Homo sapiens: one gene and its partners. The protein of the gene in region 2 purifies or fractionates together with the protein of the main gene of each other region. This does not show direct contact. Each region holds a gene or a part of one and is shown on either strand. Other genes may lie near its edges. The genes, in order: LONP2, OLFML2B, DNAJC3 and CHSY1.

The links.
Region 1: the proteins of OLFML2B (region 2) and LONP2 purify together in Homo sapiens (co-immunoprecipitation; 2 studies listed by BioGRID and IntAct, with this or other methods). This does not show direct contact.
Region 3: the proteins of OLFML2B (region 2) and DNAJC3 purify together in Homo sapiens (co-immunoprecipitation; 2 studies listed by BioGRID and IntAct, with this or other methods). This does not show direct contact.
Region 4: the proteins of OLFML2B (region 2) and CHSY1 purify together in Homo sapiens (co-immunoprecipitation; 2 studies listed by BioGRID and IntAct, with this or other methods). This does not show direct contact.

What each region holds. Positions count from the first base shown.
Region 1 is NC_000016.10:48,352,300-48,358,562, reverse strand, and holds the end of LONP2 (lon protease homolog 2, peroxisomal), read right to left. Parts: 3' UTR 1,899-6,263; coding exon of another isoform or gene 1,853-1,898; 3' UTR 1,214-1,852; downstream 1-1,213. UniProt on the Homo sapiens protein: ATP-dependent serine protease that mediates the selective degradation of misfolded and unassembled polypeptides in the peroxisomal matrix.
Region 2 is NC_000001.11:161,982,209-161,986,099, forward strand, and holds the end of OLFML2B (olfactomedin-like protein 2B isoform 2 precursor), read right to left. Parts: intron 2,773-3,891; coding exon 2,596-2,772; intron 2,069-2,595; coding exon 1,467-2,068; 3' UTR 984-1,466; downstream 1-983.
Region 3 is NC_000013.11:95,791,923-95,795,985, forward strand, and holds the end of DNAJC3 (dnaJ homolog subfamily C member 3 precursor), read left to right. Parts: 3' UTR 1-3,066; downstream 3,067-4,063. UniProt on the Homo sapiens protein: Involved in the unfolded protein response (UPR) during endoplasmic reticulum (ER) stress.
Region 4 is NC_000015.10:101,234,595-101,242,307, reverse strand, and holds part of CHSY1 (chondroitin sulfate synthase 1), read left to right. Parts: intron 1-6,730; coding exon 6,731-7,226; intron 7,227-7,713. UniProt on the Homo sapiens protein: Has both beta-1,3-glucuronic acid and beta-1,4-N-acetylgalactosamine transferase activity. Transfers glucuronic acid (GlcUA) from UDP-GlcUA and N-acetylgalactosamine (GalNAc) from UDP-GalNAc to the non-reducing end of the elongating chondroitin polymer.

The DNA of each region.
Region 1 (6,263 bases), on a different chromosome or scaffold from region 2:
GGCATGAGCAGCTGGCTCCAGCCACATGTTTATTTTCAAAGATATTGGGAGCCCTTTTATGTATTACCTTGTAGGCCTTTCATCACACAACATGGTCATCTGAGTGTTTCACCACTTTAATAATCTTGGAAAAATAATTTTTGTTAGTTTGAGGATTCACTGTAATTTTACCTAGGTTCTTGCTGGATATAAGTAAACCATGAACATACCTGTATGTTTTCTGTTTATATTCTTGGGATTATTTTTTACACACTTCATCATTGCTTTCTGGAGAGGTTCCAGAGGACACCAGTAACTGTGTGAAGTTTTCCATTTTCATTTTCACCTCATGTTTTGCTAATTTAAGCAAATTAAGGTAGTACATTTTGTGTTTAACAGTTAATAAGCTTGACATTTTAGTATTAACTATTTGCATTTGGGTCTTCATATTCTTAGCCTATAGAGGTAAGATCTATAGCCATATTTCTTGGTCCATTACACATTTGATTTATGAGGCATAACTCTTGTCCTGAAATTGCTTGTTATAACGAAGACTTCCTCCATTTCTTATTTTTGGTGTCTTTCAGGAGGCTGTACATGGGGTAGGTATGGGAGATACTTATTAACTTTGTTCTATTGCTTTTATACCCTTAAACTTGAAATTGTCCTATTTAATCATGGGCCAGTTTGGTGTGTTAATTTTTGGGGAACAGTTTTTCCTTTGTGAGTAATTTTTATTGTAATATGTATGATTTTAAGACCCACCTTTCTGCAAACTTCAAACGTATGTAAGTGGCTGTAGATAGCTTAGCTCACCAAAATAATAGTGTGCTGCCTCCAACCCCCAAAAGCTCTTCATATTTAGAAACATCTGCAGTGATTCTACTAATGGTAGAATTCTATTTCATTCACACTCCTGATTAGAAGAATTGGTAAGTAATCCAAATTAAGAAAATAATGGATCAAATCCAACATACCTGGGGGGTCAGTCTGTGACTGCTGCATTAGAATGGACATAAAAGTAATGTCGAAACTCGACAGGGTGAATAGTGTGTGTGAACTACCACGCAGGACTGTGGTATTTGTGTAGGTTAAACATGAAAGGTACAGATAGAGTGTTACAGAGACCCGGAGTTTGAAGCTTTGTCATTCCCCTCCCCACTCATCCAGTGTGCATGTTCAAAGCACAAAGGAGTATTTGGTAGTTTACTGCTTATGATCCTAACCTGAATTTACCAAAAGAAACGTACGTTTATCTAAAAATGGCACCATCCAAACAAAATTCCTTATCAAGCATCTACTAAGATTTGGTGGCAAACAGTGTGGGTTGTAGATTCTAACTGCCTGGGTTGACTTCTGACTCTGTATCTACCAGTTTTTATTTAAATACCTTCTCTGCCTGGTCCCTCCTCCACAAAAGGGTATGATGTCCACTGCGTAAGGGAATGAGGAAGGCTAGATGTGCTATAAAGTGCTTATTATGCCTGACTTGATACCCCAGTGTCTTGCTGAACCAAATATTTTCGCTATCCTTATATAGCTCTAGAAACTTGACAAAGAAATACACTTTATTATCATAGATGTAATTTTCTTAGGCCTTTCTGAATTCTGAAAATAATAACAGGTTTACAGATATAAATAATGGAGCAAAAGGACACCTGGTTTTGGGGTCACATTTTGACAGGCTTGCACTGTCATGTCAGGATGAGGATTTAGCCTCAAGAGTTTGTATTGCCTAGAAATGTGCTGACAGTGTCATTAAGTACAAACTACAGTATTTCCAAAGAAATGAATTTTCATGACAAAGCTTTTCCTAAAATTGTTTTAGAAGTCCTTTTGCTGTAACTTTTAAAACATCTCAATGACCACTCACCATATTTGCCTGTTGTCTATTCAGACCTTTTTGATATTTCCTTCCTCTTTCAGCATTTTTGTTTTTTAAGTGCAGTTTTCATTGTGGTATCCACCAAATGTTTGTAAAACAAACAAAAAAAATGAGCATTAGTGTTGGACCATAAATCATCAAATTGGATAATGACTAACTGTAGTCTTTTTTTTTTTTTTTTTTTTTAGCTGCTGGATACAATTTTCATGGCAATAGGAACTGAAGTACTTCAAATAATGTGAGCTTAAACATGTTACTTCATTGAAACAACCAAAACTACTTGATGTTTACATCTAAAATCCTGGTTAAAATAAATTTTAGATTTGGAAAGGGAATTGGCAAAACTAACATTCTTTGTAGCAAAATGTCCCTTAGTAATAGTCAAGTTGACCTCATTTCAGTAGTTCATAAAGGAAAATCCAAAGCCCTCAGCAGTGAATTACCTGGCCACATAGCTGATTTTGGTCACTGTGAATGCAGACCAATCACCTAGTACTGGAAGCTCACAGTGGTAGACATCACTATCACAGTACTTTACGGTCATGGATTTCTCGTGAACTATTTCAGGAACAATCACAAAGATGACATTCTTCACTGTATTTGCATTTGTAACCACCAAGCAAGTAAGGATCTCTGCCCCAGATGCATGGTTTGAGGTAAGGTTCACAGGGACCACTAAAGGGGCAGAGCCAAGTAAAAACATGGATGTCTCCAGTGGACAGTGTAGGATTTCTTGATAAGCAAAGCACCTAAAGCTTTTAGTTTTAATACTTGAGAAGTTTTAAAAACCCATGCATAAAACGTGGAATACCGGTAAAATACACATATCCCTAAGTCTAGTTTAAACTAAAATTTCTAGAGTTAATAATTTTCAATAAAAAAATCCAGCTTATTTTGATACAAGGGGTCTTTGGGTAACATCTTAAAAATCAATGCTAGAAAATGCTCAACATCACTAGTCATTAGGGACATAGAATCAAAATACGTCACACCCATTTGGAGGGCTATTATAAAAAACCCAGAAAATGAGTGCTGGCAAGGATGTGGAGAAACTGGAACATTTGTGCATTGCTGGAAGGAATGTCAAATGGTGCAGCTGCGGTGGAAAAGTTTGGCAGTTCTCAAAAAGTTAAACAGAATTATCCTGTTGTCTTAGTCATTTGTGTTAACCGTAACAGAATACCTGAGACTGGGTAATTTAAAAGTACGAATTTATTTCTCATAGTTGTGAAGACTGAGAAGCCCACGATCAGCGTGCTGGCAGACTGGTATCATCTATTGAGGGCCCAGTCTCAGCTTCTAGGACGGGGCCTGTTGCTGTGTCCTCATATGGTGGAAGGGAATCGAAGGGCAAAAAGGAGGTAATTGGTTCCCTTGAGCCCCTTTATAAAGGCACTAAATCCATTAATGAGGATGGAGCTCTCATGACATAATCACCTCCTAAAGCCTCACCTATCACGTTGGTGGTTGCTTCAACATACGAATTTGGTGGGGGGACATTCAGACCTTAGCATATGTGATCTAGTAGTTCTGCTCCTGGATATGTATCCCTAAAGGACCTAAGAAGGGACTTCAAGAGAGATGTGTACACCCATGTTCATAGCATTACTCATAATACCCAAGAGGGGGAAACAATCAGCAGATGAGTGGATAAACCAAATGCGGTCTATGGATATAGTGGTGTATTATTTGGCCATAAAAATTTCTGGTACTTGCTACCACATGGCTTTTTCCCAGGGAAAGTATTAGTTTTTGTTTGACAAAACACCTTGATAGGTCATGGTTCTGCAAGGCAGAGATGTGAAACAAAGAAAGCTAACTGTTGCAAATAATAAAAAGTTGGAGTTCCTTTGAGCTAAAGCTAAAGTGGCAAAGGAGGAAGAGGTTCATCCCTACCCTTCTGCACCCCATTATTTTGAAGAAAAAGAGTGGCCTGACCCTCCAGATCTTTCTTTTCTGGAGGACACTGGGCGAAAAGTAGTTGCCCCAGTGACTGTTCGAGCAGTTGATGGCTTGCTAAGTAAGAATGCTAAACACAAAAGGACAACTCTTGTTTGATCCCACTCATATGAAGGGAAATTCAGAAAGAAAGTGAAATAGTGGTTACCAGGGTCTGGGGTGAGGGTGGAATTTGGAGCTCTTTTTCAGTGGGTACAGAGTTTCAGTTTGTGGTGATAAAAAATGCATGTAAGCCGGGTGTGGTGGCTCACGCCTGTAATGCCAGCATTTTGGGAGGCCAAGGTGGCCGGATCATTTGAGGTTGGGAGTTTGAGACCAGCCTGGCCAACATGGTGAAACCCTGTCTCTACTAAAAAATACAAAAATTAGCTGGGCGTGGTGGCACACACCTGTGGTCCCAGCTACTTGGGAGGCTGAGGCATGAGAATTGCTTGAACTGGGGAGGCAGAGGTTGCAGTGAGCCGAGATCATGCCACTGCAGTGCAGCCTGGGTAACAGAGCAAGACTCCATCTCAAAAAAAAAAAAAAAAAAAAAAAAAAAAAGCGTGTAGAGTGGACATGCTTAGATCCAGTAACTGATACCCCCAAATTATATGCTTAAAAATGGTTAAAATTTTGGCTCTTCCCCACCCGCCCCACCCCTAACCCCCCACCCCCCCCAAAAAAAAAAAACCCAGGTGAAAAAGGAAGAGCTTAGACTTCAACCAACCAACCTCCCACCCCTGGAATTAAAAAAAAAACAAAACAAACCAAAAACAAAGCTAGTGCAATGGTCATACTGTTCCATGTCATACACAGCAAGGGGAGAATGCATTATTCTCTCAATGGATGCCTTTCGAAAGATATGCTTAAAGCAAGTGCCCTCCTGCTGCTACAAAGTGCAAGGCTGCCTGTGTCAGGACTAAAGGAAGAATACCGAGAACCCCAAGTTATATCCTTGTTGCCCCTGCTGGGTGGAACAGGGCAGAGCGATGTGGGTGTGGATTAGCGCCCTCTGGTTGCTGAAAGTGAATTCACAGTTTGTTCTAGTCCCCAGTTAGATGACGTTGGAAATGATAAAATTACAGTAGTTAAGATAGTCAATGGCATATTTTCAAACATCCCGATGTTCTTTCTCTCCAACTGCCATAACTAGTCCTAGGTCTGGACTTTTCCTCTCAATGCATTCAGATAAACTTTTATCAGCAGGCCTGCTATTTTATCACAGTATTTTGGCCCAATCTTTTTTTTTTTTTTTTTTTTTGAGACAGGGTCTCACTCTGTCGCCCAGGGTGCTGGAGTGCAGTGGCGTGATCTTGGCTCACTGCAGCCCCGACCTCCCTCATCCTCCCATCTCAGCCTCAAGTAGCTGGACTACAGGCGGGTGCCACCATGCCCAGCTAATTTTTGTATTTTTTGTAGAAATGGGGTTTTGCCATGTTGCCCAGGCTGGCCTTGAACTCCTGAGCTTAAGTGATCCACTCGCCTCGATTTCCTAAAGTGCTAGGGTTACAGGCGTGAGCCACCATGCCCAGCCCAGACTTCCTTCTCATCCAGGAAATTCCAAAATGTCTTTACATACATATTCTTATATTGTGTAATAAAAGATTCTGAAGTCCATTACTGGCTAGAATAATAACTAGAAATTGCTTAATATTACTATACATTGCATTTGAACTTAATCTCCACAGTAACAATTAGGTAGTATTACTTGGATTTCATGGATGAAGAAAACCAAGATACAAAAAGTTCACACAGCCAGTAAGCAGATGAGCCTGACTTCATAGTCATACATAGCCTGAATTGAGTCCCAGCAGGAGCACATGGGCATGGACATCTACCAGATTTGGGAACTGGCGTAGCCAAGCAAGAAATAGGAGACGGAATCAGGAGTTAGGATTCCATGCTTAGGACCATCCCAGATGGATGGCTGCCTCCCTCTGGGAGCTGCACTCTTCTGAGGTTGCAGGCATCCAGGGCCAGGGTGCTTCTGTGAGGTGTGCCAGCACGTGCCACTCTGCTGGATACAAGCTATCATGTTCTGAGGGCTGCTTCCCTCAGCATAAGAAGGGGCTTCTATTGGGATGTGTAGGCTTCATTGTAGGGTCCACTTGAGTCTTTTTTTTTTAGAGACAGTCTCGCTCTGTCAGCCAGGCTGGAGTGCAATGGCGCGATCCCAGCTCACTGCAACCTCCACCTCCTGGGTTCAGGCAATTCTTGTGCCTCAGCTTCCCAAGAAGCTGGGATTACAGGCACATGCTAACACGCCTGTATATTTTTTGTAGAGACAGAGTTTCGCCGTTGGCCAGGATTGTCTTGAACTCTTGGGCTCGGTGATCTGCCTACCTCGACCTCCCAAAGTGCTGGAATTACAGGTGTGAGCCATCACGCCCGGCCCACTTGAATATATATATATAGCCAAGAATAGTTGGCTATACTTTCATCTTTGCCTAGTTCTAAG
Region 2 (3,891 bases):
AACCTGAGAAGTGTCCTCACCTGGCCTGAGTGGGCAGTTTGGCTCTAAAACCAATTGATTCACCCAGACAAGCTGCAGCCGGCCTCCCTGGAGGGCTGTTCCTCATGGCCCCCCACCTTGTTCTCTACACAGCGGGGGTGCTCCCTGGTGTGACCCTCTAACTTGGGGTCAGGAAGTGAGGCCGCCTACAGAGGGGTCGGGAGGAGGCTGAGGGGAGCTGCAACAGGAGAGCTGTGCTGATCTCCCTGCGGCATCCCTGGGTCCTGCCCTCCTTCATAACCTCAGGAGATGCCTGTTCAGGCTTTTTCAGATGTTCTATCTCCTGTTTTGTGTAATGTGGAGGAAAAAAATCACACTTGTGGACAGCAGGCACTGCACAGGGCTCAGCCCTGCACCGGGAGGGGCTGCAGTTCTTCCCCATCCCTCAAGTGCTTCCCTCAAGGACCTTGTTTCAGAAAGGGGCCCCTTTCCTGGAAGGGAAGGTGGGAGGGAAAGCCTGGCCGAATGAGCTTGTTCAGGAAAAGGCAGACAGGGTTATGGGCAGAAGGAGAGAAGGGGAGAGAGATGGATTGATTGAGAACTTCTTAAGGAAGTGTGGGAACAAGGTCGCACTCACTCAGTTTTGTATTTTCAACAGTGCCTAAGACCAGACCTCGAGAAGCAGGGCTAATGAATGAACGGGTTCCCCAACCTTGGGTGAAGTGATCAGAGGAGTAGCAGAACAGAGCAAGGAAGCCAGTGTGACAGAAAAATGAAGAGATCAATGCCACAAAATTAAAGAGAACACGGGGGTCGCTCATTCCAAATCCCCCACCAGGAAGCCCCTATCAGGAGGGGAGGAGGAGCTCCTAGGAACTGAACTTGGACGCAGGCCACTTCAGCTAGAGAACATTTCTGAGGAACACCAGACCTCGTCTCCTTCCGGGAGCGGGATCCAACACCTGGCCAGACATATCGGTGCTGAACAAAAGTGCACTGGGGGATGATTTTAAATTTCTTCTTTATTAAAAAAAAAAAGCGTTTTTCTGGGTTTTTTAAAACTTCTCCAATACATTAAAACTTTTTTTCTCGCCACATAGCACTTCTTTCTTGCCTCTTTCATTTCTGCTCCTGGTGTTGCCTGCCTCCTGCAAGACCCAGATGAAGAAACCTTTTCAATGGTCGAGATCTGAGACTTGGAGCTGGAGGGGCTGAAGGCTTGAAGGAAGGTGGTTACTGGTCAAAAGGAGAAGTTCATTTGCACAAAAATATAAACTGGGGAGGATGAGACCAGCACATACACGTATGGATTGATCTACAATCCATATAAAAAAATAGACCCAAATTGTCATTTTACATTTGCAATATTATACAAAATAATATATATTTTTAAACAACACATACCCACCTACACACACGTGCGCGCACACACATACACACAAGGTGCTAGTGACCCCTCTGTGCTTCTGCTTGTGGGGACAAGGGTGTCAGTAGGCAAAGATGACATGGTAAGTGACCTGGTGGCCATTGTCCCAGGCATAGAGCAGGCGGTCCTTGGGGTTGTAGTCTATCTGGGTCGTATAGGAATACTCATTCTCGAACAGCAGCCTGGGGACGATCTGTGTGTTGGTGTGGGTGTCGAAAGCGTAGGAGATGTTGGCATTCCGCTGGTTGTAGCTATCCACGGCATACAGCACCCCACAGATGACGAAGCAGTTGCCGTAGAAATTCCTCCGGAGCCCCGTGCGCCATGTGGTCTCCTTCTGTGTGCTCAGGTCCGCGGCATTGAGCTTGCTCAGGACAATGACCTCCTGGCTGAAGCCCTCATCGTCCAGGGCCGGGTAGATGAGCCATAGGCCATTCTCGTCCACAGCAAAGTCCACGTCTGAGTGGCCCTGCCATCGCCAGGGGGTGGCCTCCTCGTAGGCCACGTCATGCAGCATGGCCCAGGCAGCCACGTAGCGCTGCTTCAGGTCGTACTTGATGATGTTGCGGGTGAAGGCGCGATTGTAGTAGAAGGCGCCATTGTATACCACGTGGCCTGTGCCGATCCAGCTGTACGGGAGCTTGTAGGAATTGCTCCAGCGACCTGCAGGTGGGGAGAAAACAGGAGGCTTCAGAGTGGCATGGCAGAGGGTGGGCAGCCCATGTGGTTAAGTGAGTGATGATCAACGAGGGGTCTGGAAACCCAGGTTTGTGTCTTGGCTCTGCCACTTTCTAGCATCCTGTAGCACATCACTCAACCTGTCCGTGCCTCAGTGTCCTTATCTGTCATAGGGAAGTGACAATTCCCATCTGCCTGTTTCAAGGATCCGGGGAGCTAATATACATGAATGTGGTTCATAAATTGTCAAGGGCTATGGGAAAGGGAGCCTGTCTTCTGGACTCGGAGGTTTTTCCATGTCCCAGGAGCTCAGGAGGAGGGGCAGAGCTGAGAGGCAGAGAATGTGAGGGAGTGGGGAAGGGGGACCGCTCTCCAAGGAAAGGTCCTTTAGCCATCAGAAGAAGGTGTCATCCTTCCTATCCGTCATTACCACCCAAAGAGGCCTGGCTGTGATAAAAACAGAGGACGTGGGGAAGGGAAGGAGCAGTCTGGGTTGGATCTTTATCATGTACCTTGTTTGAAGTTCTCCAGGTTCCGGAACTCTACCAGGGTGTTGCCGTAGTAATAGTTGGTTACGTAAATCCGCTCATCCTTGGCCAGGGGGTCCTTCATCCAGGCCCCTTCATTCCGCCCATATGTGTTCTGGGTGGTCGGCCCCGTGATTGTGGAGAGAGTGTCCTTGCACCTTCCTGGTGGAGAAGAGGTGGATGGAGGTTTTGGGCTGATCTAGTGATGCCTCACCCCTTAAACCTTTGCTGTTCATCCATTTAGAGTCTGGACTCCTCGGCAGGCTTTAACAGCCCTGTATAACCTGACCCCAAACATTTTTCCACACCATCTCCTGCTACTCCCCTGATCCACCCTACACTTGACCCTACACTTGAGCCTCCACCATGCCCATCTTTGGCAACTTTCACACCACTATGCTTTGCTCCTGTTCTGACTTCTCAGTCCTATCCTTCAAAGACCTAAGATCCAGAGTCCTTTTATGACATCATGCCCTCCTCTGGAGAACTATTCTATTCTATTCCATTCAGCTCTCAGGGTACCATGAATGCTGCTCTCTTACAGAGCATGTCATCCTGCATCTCCACAATGTTTGTGCTTCTCTCTCCTCCCTCCACGCCTGCCCCCAACCGGAGCGTAAGCACCAAGGGATGAGGGAATGTGGCTTTTCCTCATTGCATTCTCAGTGCTCAGAACACGGTGTCTGGCTTGCTGCAGGCACCCAAATGTCTGATCCCAGGGTGAACACACAGCATGAGAAGTGTGGCCAGAGGAGAGGCCTCTGCTGGGTGTAACCAGGAACTCGGCTCTGCCAGCTGCTGAGCTGCCCCAGGCTGTGGGACCAGCCCTAGTGGAGCAATGGCTATTCATGTCCCTGAGGCCCACCTGCTGTCCTAGAGAGCTGTCCCCAAGCCTAAGCCCCTGTCACTACTGGGAGCAGGATGCCAGGGCCCTCTGCTGGGTAACTGGGGGGCAAGATACCAAGTTCTTGAATAAGGAGCTGACTCTGGGTATAGAAGCCTCCTTCAGAGATCAAGTCGGCCACGATGGGACAGGAACTCAGCAACGTCCTTCTGAGTGGCTCTGGATCCGGTGCCCAGGAGAGGCCCTAAAAAGCCACTGGAACTATACTGGGTTCTAGATGAAGTTGAGAGCCTGCAATGCTTATATGCAGTATTATTATTGAGCATAGCCTTGAATGATAGTGAAGTCACACGTGACTAAGGGCATGTGCTCTTCCTGTCCTCACACTTGTGGATTATGGAGGAGGTGGGAAGAGGGCAGTGGAAGGGGGCAGTGAG
Region 3 (4,063 bases), on a different chromosome or scaffold from region 2:
CAGTCAACATAAATAAATACAGAATGCCATGTTCTCCACTTCTAAGTAAAGACAGTGGGCAGCTTCTGTTTCTCCTTCTATCAAGGCTTCACCCTATCTTAAAGGTCTGTGGTGCCTCCCACGTGGGACCTGTCTGCTGGTATGTGTTAAACAGCAGACCGGCCCTTCTACCAGATCTTGATGCCTCTGATTTTCTCCTGCCTACAAGAAAATACAGGCAAGGTTAGTCAGGTCTGGCTATATTTCCACTGTTGTTTCATTTAATAAGATGGCATCTCCTCTTGAGATATGTTCTTCTTACCTTTTAAGAAGATACTATTTAAGAAGTGAACTATTCAGTCTTTGTATACTGAATGCTTTTTCCCTAAAAAATGTTAATCAAGAATATTGAATATTTATGGCACTCTTGATGCTGCATTTGAAAGCTGAAGGAATTACTTTAGATAGATAGGAATTGCTACCTTTATTCTGGAAAGGTTTTGTTTCTGCCTCAAAGCATTTTGAAGTGTTTTAACCATTAAAGGGTCTAATTTTTTTTTCTTAATGAAATCAAGCATTTTAATTCACTGTGGGAGGCATCCTGACCACGGACATCCATAACAGCAAAGCACAAATCGTTTTCGTCTGTAGTCATATCCTGAAACATAGGTGGACAAATTTTTAACTGAGAGACAAAAATCACATAGTTGAATTGAGCAGAACACTTAAGTGCTTTCTGCATCTATTTAGGAGTCTATTTCTTACCAATAAACTTGACAACGCATTTGGAAAACTAGTGAACACCTTACAGCTTTCATTTTGCTTTAATGTTTCAATTCAAGCCGGTGTAAAAATAATTTCCAAGGCATTTCTGTTTATTCTTTAGTAATCTCACTACTGGCTATGTCAGCAATATCTTTTTCAATCTGGTTCCTTTTGTATATGATGTCACTGTGACCTCTTTGAAATATAGTGATGGCTTTTACCTACTTTGAAAAGAATTTTCACATAGAGTCAGAAAAAAAAGGAAATATCAAATCACTTGCCTTTCCACTTGGAGAGCACGACAGTTGCCAACAACAAGGGGTCAAGGGCCGCACAGGAGATGTGTGGGGGCCTGGCCACCTCCCACCTGCTGCCCAGAGGCTTGTTTGCATTTTCATTTTTTCTCCACTTGTAACAACCATAGTTTCAGCTCCTAAATTCTTATCATGGATTTACTTAGTCATCTTAACTGACCTGCAGTTACTTGCCTGTTTTCAGTGAAGAGAGAGAAGCAGCTCTGGTGCCACATGCCAGTGCCATGGAGGGAAATGAATTCTCTGCAATCTGTTGTTTCGCTGATTCATGAAGAAAGTAACAACTGTTGAGTTTCAGCCTTGATGGCTGTCGGCAGTTTTCTGGTGTCCACCCAAACGGAGAGACAGTCACTCCTGCTTACCCTAATGTGTGACTGAGAAGCAGCCTGGGTGTGTAAAGAGATAGTCATTCCCCCTGCCTGTCTCACTGTAGGGTAGCATTATCCACTGTAAAACCATACTACTTTCATTTTCCCTTGGGGACTACAGGTGCCAGGTAACCTTTTTTTTTTTTTTTTTTTTTTTTTGAGACAGAATCTTGCTCTGTTGCCCAGGCTGGAGTGCAGGGACACCTCCCGGGTTCAAGCAGTTCTCCTGCCTCAGCCTCCAAGTAGCTGGGACTATAGGCACGCACCACCATGCCTGGCTAATTTTTGTATTTTTAGTAGAAATGGGGTTTCACTGTGTTAGCCAGGATGGTCTTGATCTCCTGACCTTGTGATCTGCCCGCCTTGGCCTTCCAAAGTGTTGGGATTACAGGCGTGAGCCACTGCGCCTGGCCATCAGGTAACCTTTATGGCTCTTTCAGGAAAAGTGAAATCAGAGAGGCGTACCCTAGCCACAGCTGTTGTATTCTGCTCTTCTTTCCTTTTTGGTGAGCTTCATGGGTGGAGTTATCAGTGGTCTGTACTTTGTGGATATTTTGCCCAGCAGGAAGTATTAGACACATCAGTCTAGAAGCATTGTGAAAAGGTTCCAAAACGGGAGACAAAATTTAATTCATTCCTCAGTTCTGAAAGTTTGTGCTTTCTTACCATGAATAGATGAAAACTTGAAAAAAATCTTGACAGTTTACTAATGTGAATCAGATGTAACGTACTACTAATTCTACAATGCCTTTCTCTTTAGTCAGTATTAAAAATCTTTTTTAAAGTATTGGTATGAAAACAAATTTTTGTTGCCCTGATAATGGAATTTTAAAACTACCCACAGTTTAAGAGAAAACATAACTTGGTAAAAAAGGTAGCCAATAAAACCACAATTTGAAATTGATACCATTTTCTACTCACAATGGATGATGAAAAATTTCACCTTTAAATGGGTCAGAAGTTGTCTTTGACATTTACCATGAAAAAACTACATAAAATGGCTCCCTGGTGAGGTTACAGACACGGCCCTGGTGATGGGCGTTGCAAAGTTTTCACTGAGCACACAGCAATGGTATCACCTAGAGAAGTTCACGCAACTTTGTTGAATGTAGTTGACTTTTCCAAATTTATAAAGGAAGGAAGAAGGCAAATGTTAATTTGCCAACAACGAATATCCTTTTTCTAAATCAGATCATTCCTTTTTTGTTAGTGGCAGTTTATCCTGTAATTTCAAATGACGTTAAGAGGTGGGATTATTTGGGGGTTTTTTTTGTTTGTTTACAGATGATCTCATTTGCTGAATGATTGATTTAAGAGTAAAATTAGCCACTGCGTGGCTTTGTGTATAGTAACCGGTTTTGTTGCACTTGTCTGTGGCTGAAACACTTACCTGCAGTGGAAAGCCGAGCAAGGAGGAGGTAAACATTGGAGATGTTTGTGAAAATATTACTCTTGCTGTGAGGTTTTAGTTTGTTTTGAATGAGAAAAGACTAAGTAACTTAATCCATCTCAATGTAGTGTTTTAATAAAAAAGGAACCTAATATTTGAAATGGGTCTCAGACATGTCTACAAATATGGGTACTATTTTTATGCCCGTGTATTTTCACATTTAATAAAAATATTTATGGTCATATCAGTATTTCCTTGCTTTTGATTCATTTTTGTCCTTGAGTATAAAATTCTAAGAAAGTCCGTCTTAGGAAAAGTCTATTATTTCCAGCTTTGCTTCACGCAAAACCAGTGACTGAGGTGACAAAAGGGCTCTTCCTTTACACAAGTTGACAGGGAAGGTCAGAACACACAAAGCAGAAAGGGCTAAAATAAAATCTCTTAACCCTCAAAAGTCCTAGGACAACTAAGGACTTAAAAAGTGGACAAGTCTTCCATTTCAGTGCTATTAAAATGTAACACTTAAATTGGCTTTGTCTGAAGATTTTCTCTTCTCTTTTATACCCCATTTGTACATTTCTGTTAAGGTCCTAAGTTGGGAGGAAGGAAGGACACTATAGCCTATCTATCTCAAATTTCCAGCTACAAACAGAAGGAACTGCCTTCTCAGTTAATGTATTCTGCATATCTTAAGAAAGATCCAAGGAGAGCTACGATATGTAAATGTATACAGAACTTTTCCAGAAAGCTCAAACCTTCCTTTTTTTTTTTTTTTTTTTGAGACGGAGTCTTGCTCTGTTGCCCAGGCTGGAGTGCAGTGGCATGATCTCGGCTCACTGCAACCTCTGCCTCCCTGGTTCAAACAATTAACTGCCACAGCCTCCCGAGTAGCTGGGATTATAGGTGCCCACCACCACACCTGGCTAATTTTTTTGTATTTTTAGTAGAGATGGGGTTTCACCATCTTGGCCAGGCTGGTCTTGAATTCCTGACCTCGTGATCCACCTGCCTTGACCTCCCAAAGTGCTGGGATTACAGGCGTGAGCCACTGCACCCGGCCAAAGCTTCCAAATTCTTAATCGTCATGATATTGTAGCAATATATGAGCAGCCAGCCTGAGTCTGAAGATAAACAGCATGAACACGTGGAGCAGGCATGAGGGCTGTAGGGAAACTGCAAGAAGAAGGGAGGTCCAGGTCCTCTTCCCAGAGCCTCAGGAGCTCTCATTGAGCAGGCACCAAACCCGC
Region 4 (7,713 bases), on a different chromosome or scaffold from region 2:
TCAGGGTTTGCCCTGGGCAGGGCAGCCTCCACCAGGATTTGCCTTTCGTTCCTTGCGTAAGGGTTTCCTACTCTTACTTTTCTTTGGTCTCATTTTCTTGCTGATTTTTCTCATCCTGTATGATTTTGGTTAAGTTGTCTTAAATCCCTTCTGTAACAGGGGAGAATGTAAATACAGCTGGCCCTGCTATCTGCTACATCTGTGGATTCCACCATCCATGGATTGAAAATATTTGGGGGGAAAAACAATAGAAAATAACAATAATAAAAACAATACAAGTAAATACAATATAGTATAACGACTATTTACATAGCATTTACATTGTATTAGGTATTATGAGTAATCTAGAGACTATTTAAAGTATACAGGAGGGTATGTGAAGGTTTAAGCAAATACTGCACCATTTTATATCAGGGACTAAAGCGTCTGTGGATTTTGGGGTCCTGGGATCATTCCCTCTTGGATGATAAGGAACAGCTGTATATACCCTTAATTCCTATTATCCATCAGTTCTACAGAGAGAAAAACCCATATCCTCCCTTCTTTAACTTCCAAGATGATTTTATCATGAGTCCTTTTAAACTGACTGCCGTGTAGCCATCAGACAGCACATGTAATAGTGATTTTGGGGAACTCACAGAAAATCTCCCCACCTTTTTAATGGTAACTAGTAGAATAACTATTAAAGCTTAAAAATCACAATTGAAACGACTCAATCTTACTCCATTTTTCTTTCAGTTTTTCTTGTTGGATAAAAAAATTTTATTACAAAAGTAAAAATTCTCTGTTGTTACATGTTTTGATTTCTTTGGTTGCTTGTTAGCCTCAAAGCTTTTGCCCAGTTAAAACTTTTTTTCCAGCTCTAAATATACCTGTTGCAGAAAACTTAGAAAATTTAGAAAACACAAGGAAGACTATTGGCCGGGCGCAATGGCTTCCGCCGGTAATCCCAGCCCTTTGGGAGGCCGAGGTGGGCGGATCACAAGGTCAGGAGTTCGAGACCAGCCTGACCAACATGGTGAAACCCTGTCTCAACTATAAGTACAAAAATTAGCTGGGCGTGGTGGCAGGTGCCTGTAATCCCAGCTACTCGGGAGGCTGAGGCAGGAGAATCGTTTGAACCTGGGAGACGGAGGTTGCAGTGAAATCACGCTGTTGCACTCCAGCCTGGGCGACAGGGCCAGACTCCGTCTCAGAAAACAAAAAAAAAGACTATTAAATCCTTTCTGGTTTTCCCATCCAAAAATAACCACGGTGAATACTTTGGGGGTGGAGTTGTACGTTATTTTATTTTTGTATATGTACTTTTGTTCCCTTGGTAAGCCACATCACAAGTATATACTGTTGCCTGCTTTTTAAGCTTACCCGTATATTATGAATATTTACCTAGGACAAGAGTCATGCTATAGATGCAGTTTTGTACAGAAGTGTATTTTATGTAGTTTTTCTTAAAACAACACTGAATGGAAATGGAGACTATGATATTAACCCATTTATGCCTAGAGTTCCATTATTGGAACGCTAAGCTTGTGGGAGTTATTTATATCCCGCTCAAGGTTATCACCAAAGTCTGATTTTTTTTCCACACAAAAAAATCGCAACCTCTGACATAAATGGGTTAAGTCCTAACCAGCAAAGGCATTCCTTAGCTAAGCTAATACTGGTCCAGCTGAATTACTTAACTGTGATTTGACTCAGTGTAGGAATAGCGTTTAGAAACCTAGAGTGATGGAGGATTCACTTGGCACTCTCAAGTTTCAGCTGTCTTATCTGGGCTTGAGCAAGGGTTGGACATCAGTTCATTGAAAATGAGCTTTTTCTGGCAAGGCCTCTGCAAACGTTTTGTCATTTCAATTAAGTGAGAGTTCTTTGCTCCCGGTAACAAATGTGTTGATGGCAAAGCTGACGTTTGCTTATGAAAATGAAGGAACTGGACTTGTTGATATTGCAGAAGAGGGGACAGCTTGCTTCTTTGGGAGCATTCCCTTCAATTATTTGAAATTATTAATGCATCCCCTCCTCCTCCTCAGGATGGTGGTGAATCACGATTTATGTTCCTGAACTCGTTCACTTTGTGGAGCTCTTCAAGTTAAAGGACCCTAATTGAAAAGATTATAATTTCTTAAGATTGGAGGGTTTACAAAGACTTGACATTGAGAGATTTCCCTCAAACCAACCACCAGTCATTTAGAACAGAAAAGGACAACATGAGGTTTTTCCCTGAGTTACCTAAAAAGGAACAGATAATAATTGGGTGGAGTTACCATAAAACTGTAGGGTTGAGGTTAGACTGTTTTTAAAATTAATTGGTTTCTCTTCTTGGGCAAATTACACCATTTCAGTCATAGTTGAGACATTAATTGCGTCTGTGCTGGTTGTACTGCTGGGGCCTCTTTCACTGTGTTCTTCCTGGTGGGGTACACGGGAAGCAGGGCCAAACTATAATGAAGCTTCATCCTCAGTCTAGTAGGGAAGTTTCTCGTGCTCTACCGCGAAATGCTCGTGAAATTTGCAGTTAGGCCTCTTTCCTGTAACATTGTCTGAAGTTGATAGTAAAAGAGGATTTCAGTACATAGCTTGAGGCTCAGGTTTTAAGAAGCATTTTCCACATTACCTTTGCTCCGTGTGCTCCTGAGACTGACTAGTCCACGTGGAGCCCACACTTTCCTGTTCTTTCACTACCTTATTTGATTTGCAAACTCTTGTCTTCCTTAATAATAAGTCATACTTACATAGTGCCAGGCAGGCTTCTAAGCTGTTTACAGAGAGCTCATTTAACCCTCACAACAACCCCCGTTTACAGATAAGGAAACTGAGGCACAGAGTAACTTGTCCCAAGTGGAGCTGGAGTTCTCGCCCCCATGGCCTGATTCCAGAGCCAGCTCTTGCGGTGATGCTGTAGATTCGCCTCCTTAGTTGGTTGTTCTTTGAAGGCAGGAATTGTCTCGCCCACCCCATCTCCCAAATAACATTACAGTGTTTTAGTATTTTCATGGCTTCCTAGGTTGAAAATTTCTCAAAGTACAAGATAGAAATGATTTCTGACCTTTTGCAAACACGTGTGGCACCATTAAGTTACTTATTGTACATGAGTGGGCAGTATTCAGTGCACACATTTAGTGACCTCTATTATGTGCCAAGCACTGAAATTATTTACATTTTCAAAGAATTGTTGCGACTGCCAAATGAAAAACATTTCTCTATAAAGAGAGCATTATCAGGGGCTCCTCGACTTGAATGGGGGGTCATTGCACTATAATTTTGTCCTTACTAACTTCCCAAGGCTGGAGGAGTTCTGAGAAGTTATCTCCCCTCCATATGTCACCGCATCAGAAGACTCTGTATAGCTTGTCACACATTCACACATTGTCGCATTTGCAAAAGGACTTGTCCCTTTGTAGGTGGGATTGGTTTTTCTTTAAATTAATTTCCACATCTCTACGTTTATTCTACATCCTTTTTCTTCAGGAGCATATCCTTTGTGAAAATGAAGTGCAGTACCTAGAACAGTATCTGTTAATAACCGTGGAATGAATGTCTGGGCTGAATTTGTTTTTTGTTGTTATTCTTGTTCTTTGTTAATGAGTTATTTAAGTGGCGTAAGAATACAGGTCCATTTTAAATCCATAGGCACTAAGGGAAAACATTAACAACACCATCTTATATCCATTCTGTGATTTTGACATCTCAGAAATTAGGATGCATTTTATAGTTACCGGCGTCATGGGATTATGATTGGCAGTATTTTTTAAATTTGTTGATAGATAAAACAATGGTGCATCTTCCAGTTAACATCCTAAATGTGATGAAAAAATGTATATATTTAATCCTTGCACTTTTTGAGAGGCGTGTTGGCAGAAAGTCGAATTCCATTGAATTTTGCCTCTACTTGAAAGAGATACATTCGAAGTTGTTTTGTATTCCTCATATTTGGGTTTGGAAGAGAAATAAAAGCCAGTCATTTGTTTTCCAAGTGCTTCATTGTAAGTTCTTTTTAAAATTACAAAAGTAAATATTTAGAATCTCAGTTTTGCAAGATGAAAAAAGTTCTGGAAATGGATGGTGCCGATGGTTTCACAACACTGAATGCTGCTGAACTTTACATTTAGAAATGGTTAAGATGGTAAGTTTTATGTTATGTATATTTTATCACAATTTTTTTTAAAAAAAACAATATGATACTTATGCAGTTGTCCTTCAATATAGAGATGCATAGAATAAAAAGTGAAAGTCACCTTTGTCCACACACATTCCAGCTCCTCCCAATTTTCCTCCTTGTGTACCTCTTCCGCAGAGATTTGGTGTGTATCTTTTCAGATATTTCTCTCCTAAGACTTTCCCTTAAAGATGTGTGGGGGTTTCATTGATCCTTCAAGTAATTTTTCACTATAATAAATACACTTGTAACAGGTAAAATAAAAAATATTTGAAAGAACATCATTTGATAACTGCTTTTTTTATTTTAAGATTAAATTTACTATTTTATTTATTCTCCACGATACATTTTTCTTGGAAGTAGTCTGTATGAATGAATTATTATAGCCAAACAACTTTAGATCTGAATACAGAACGTGAAGAAAGTAGGAGGGAAAGTGCGATATGATAGCCTTCAATTAGCTGCTCAGCAGAAGCAGCCTTTACGTGGTTTCCTCGCAGTTGACCACTCATCTTCCCTCTGTCGATGGGCAACCGTTGTCTCTTACACCCTTTACGTGGTTTCCTCGCAGTTGACCACTCATCTTCCCTCTGTCGACGGGCAACCGTTGTCTCTTAAACCCTTTATGTGGTTTCCTCGCAATTGACCACTCATCTTCCCTCTGTTGATGGGCAACCGTTGTCTCTTAAACCCGGGTCTGGGCTGCTGCAGTAGTTTACTCAGTGGTCTTCCTGTGTCCACTCTGGCTTCCTTCGGCCTTCTTCTCCATTCCTAGGGAGTTCAAAATGTGTGGGCCTTAATCTTGTCTTCTGCCGCATTCCCTCTAGAGGCTTCCTGTGGCTCTTGCAACATAGAGGCCTGCATCTCTAGTGTACTCTGCCAGGCCTTGCACATTTGCCTCTGTTTTTTTTTTTTTTTTTTTTTTTTTTAGATGGAGTCTTGCTCTTTTGTCCAGGCTGGAGTGCAGTGGTGCGATCTCGGCTCATTGCAACCTCTGCCTCCCGGGTTCAAGCAATTCTTCTGCCTCAGCCTCCTGAGTAGCTGGGATTACAGGCACACGCCACCATGCCTGGCTAAATTTTGTATTTTTTTTTTTAGTAGAGATGGGGTTTCACCATGTTGGCCAGGCTGGTCTTGAACTCCTGACCTTGTGATCTGCCTGCCTCGGCCTCCTAAAGTGCTGGGATTACAGGCATGAGCCACTGCCCCCGGCCACATTTGCCTCTATATTAGTCTGTTCTCACACTGCTGATAAAGACATACCAAAATAGGTAATTTATAAAGAAACAGAGGGGTTTTTAAAATTATTTTATTTATTTATTTTTTTGAGACAGAGTCTTGCTCTGTCTCCCAGGCTGGAGTGCAGTGGCACGATCTCGGCTCGCTGCAAGCTTCGCCTTCCGGGTTCATGCCATTCTCCCGCCTTAGCCTCGCTAGTAGCTGGGACTACAGGCGCCCGCCAGCACGCACGGCTAATTTTGTTTTTGTATTTTTAGTAGAGACGGGGTTTCACCGTGTTAGACAGGATGGTCTCAATCTCCTGACCTCATGATCCGCCCGCCTCGGCCTCCCAAAGTACAGGGATTACAGGCTTGAGCCACCATGCCCGGCCCAGAAACAGAGGTTTAATGGACTCACAGTTCCACATAGCTGGGGAGGCCTCACAATCATGGTGGAAAGTGAAAGGCACGTCTTACTTGGTGGCAGACAAGAGAGAATGAGAGCCAAGCAAAAAGGGAAACCCCTTGTAAAACTATGAGATCTCATGAGACTCACTCCTGACCATGAGAACAGTGTGGGGGAAGCTGCCCCCGTGATCCACTTACCTTCCCCTGGGTCCCTCCCGCAACATGTGGGAACTGTGGGAGCTATCATTCAAGATGAGATTTGGGTGGGGACACAGCCAAACCGTATCAGCCTTCTTCCTCGCCTCATGACAGCGCTCTCGTGCCCTGCATTCCTTGATGTTTACCCTGTTTCAGGGGAAGGCTCCCTGTTCTGTTGGTTCAGCTCATGTCCTGTGCTCTGCCCTTTGGGAGTACTTCTCTTAGTTCATAATAATATATACATTAGTCTCATTATTCTGGTAAGTGTCTGTCTCTCCTGATGTCCTCTCTGTGAGTTGGGGATCACGTTTTTGTTCACCACCACATCCCTTTAGCTTAGCACATACTTGGCACTTGGTTCAAAGAAAATTTTTTGAGTGAACCATTTGATTTTGTTTTTTGTTTTATAGAGTTGAGAAGTTCTTAGGTAGGGAGTTGATAGTATCACAAAATTAATCTGTATACCCAGACCTTGGTCCCCTGGCAGTTTGGTTTTCAGCCATAACTAAAACTTAGTTATCCCAGAACAGTTTTAACACTTCTTCATTTTTTGTTGGGGTTCTTTTGAAAGTTAATTTAGACTTTGCAATACGCGGTAACCTGGGCTTTCGTTAAGAGGAACCAAGCAGGCCAAGTAGCTTTTTATCATTCCATTGAACACGGCGATACAAGATGAGCAGATAACGTGAATTCCTGAAAATCAGCTTGGAATAAACTGTTCTCTAACTGATATTTATTTTAATTCCAGAACATGGTCCAAGACAATTCCTGGGAAAGTTCAGTTCTTCTCAAGTGAGGGTTCTGACACATCTGTACCAATTCCAGTAGTGCCACTACGGGGTGTGGACGACTCCTACCCGCCCCAGAAGAAGTCCTTCATGATGCTCAAGTACATGCACGACCACTACTTGGACAAGTATGAATGGTTTATGAGAGCAGATGATGACGTGTACATCAAAGGAGACCGTCTGGAGAACTTCCTGAGGAGTTTGAACAGCAGCGAGCCCCTCTTTCTTGGGCAGACAGGCCTGGGCACCACGGAAGAAATGGGAAAACTGGCCCTGGAGCCTGGTGAGAACTTCTGCATGGGGGGGCCTGGCGTGATCATGAGCCGGGAGGTGCTTCGGAGAATGGTGCCGCACATTGGCAAGTGTCTCCGGGAGATGTACACCACCCATGAGGACGTGGAGGTGGGAAGGTGTGTCCGGAGGTTTGCAGGGGTGCAGTGTGTCTGGTCTTATGAGGTAAGAACAGAATTCTTTACCATGGGAAAAACTTAATTTTGTCAATTTTGTCATTAGTTCTGAGCGTATCATAGGAAACTAGAGATGATATCCTCTTTGAGGGTTGAAGTTGGTATTATTCTACATTTTTAGCCTTAGATTAAAAAAAAAATTCAGTTCCCCTTTATTACCTTTTCTTGGCTTTGAGCGCATATCTTCTGTACTTTTTCTCCCCCCAGAGAGAGTCTTGCTCTGTCTCCCAGGCTGGAGTGCAGTGGCGCCATCTCGGCTCACTTTAACCTCCGCCTCCTGGGTTCAAGCAATTCTCCTGCCTCAGCCTCCCGAGTAGCTAGGATTATAGGCAGGCGCCACCACGCTAGGCTAATTTCTGTATTCTTAGTAGAGACGAGGTTTCACCATGCTGGCCAGGCTGGTCTCGAACTCTTGACCTTGTGATCTGCCTGCCTCAGCCTCCCAAAATGCTGGGATTACAGGCGTGAGCCACGGC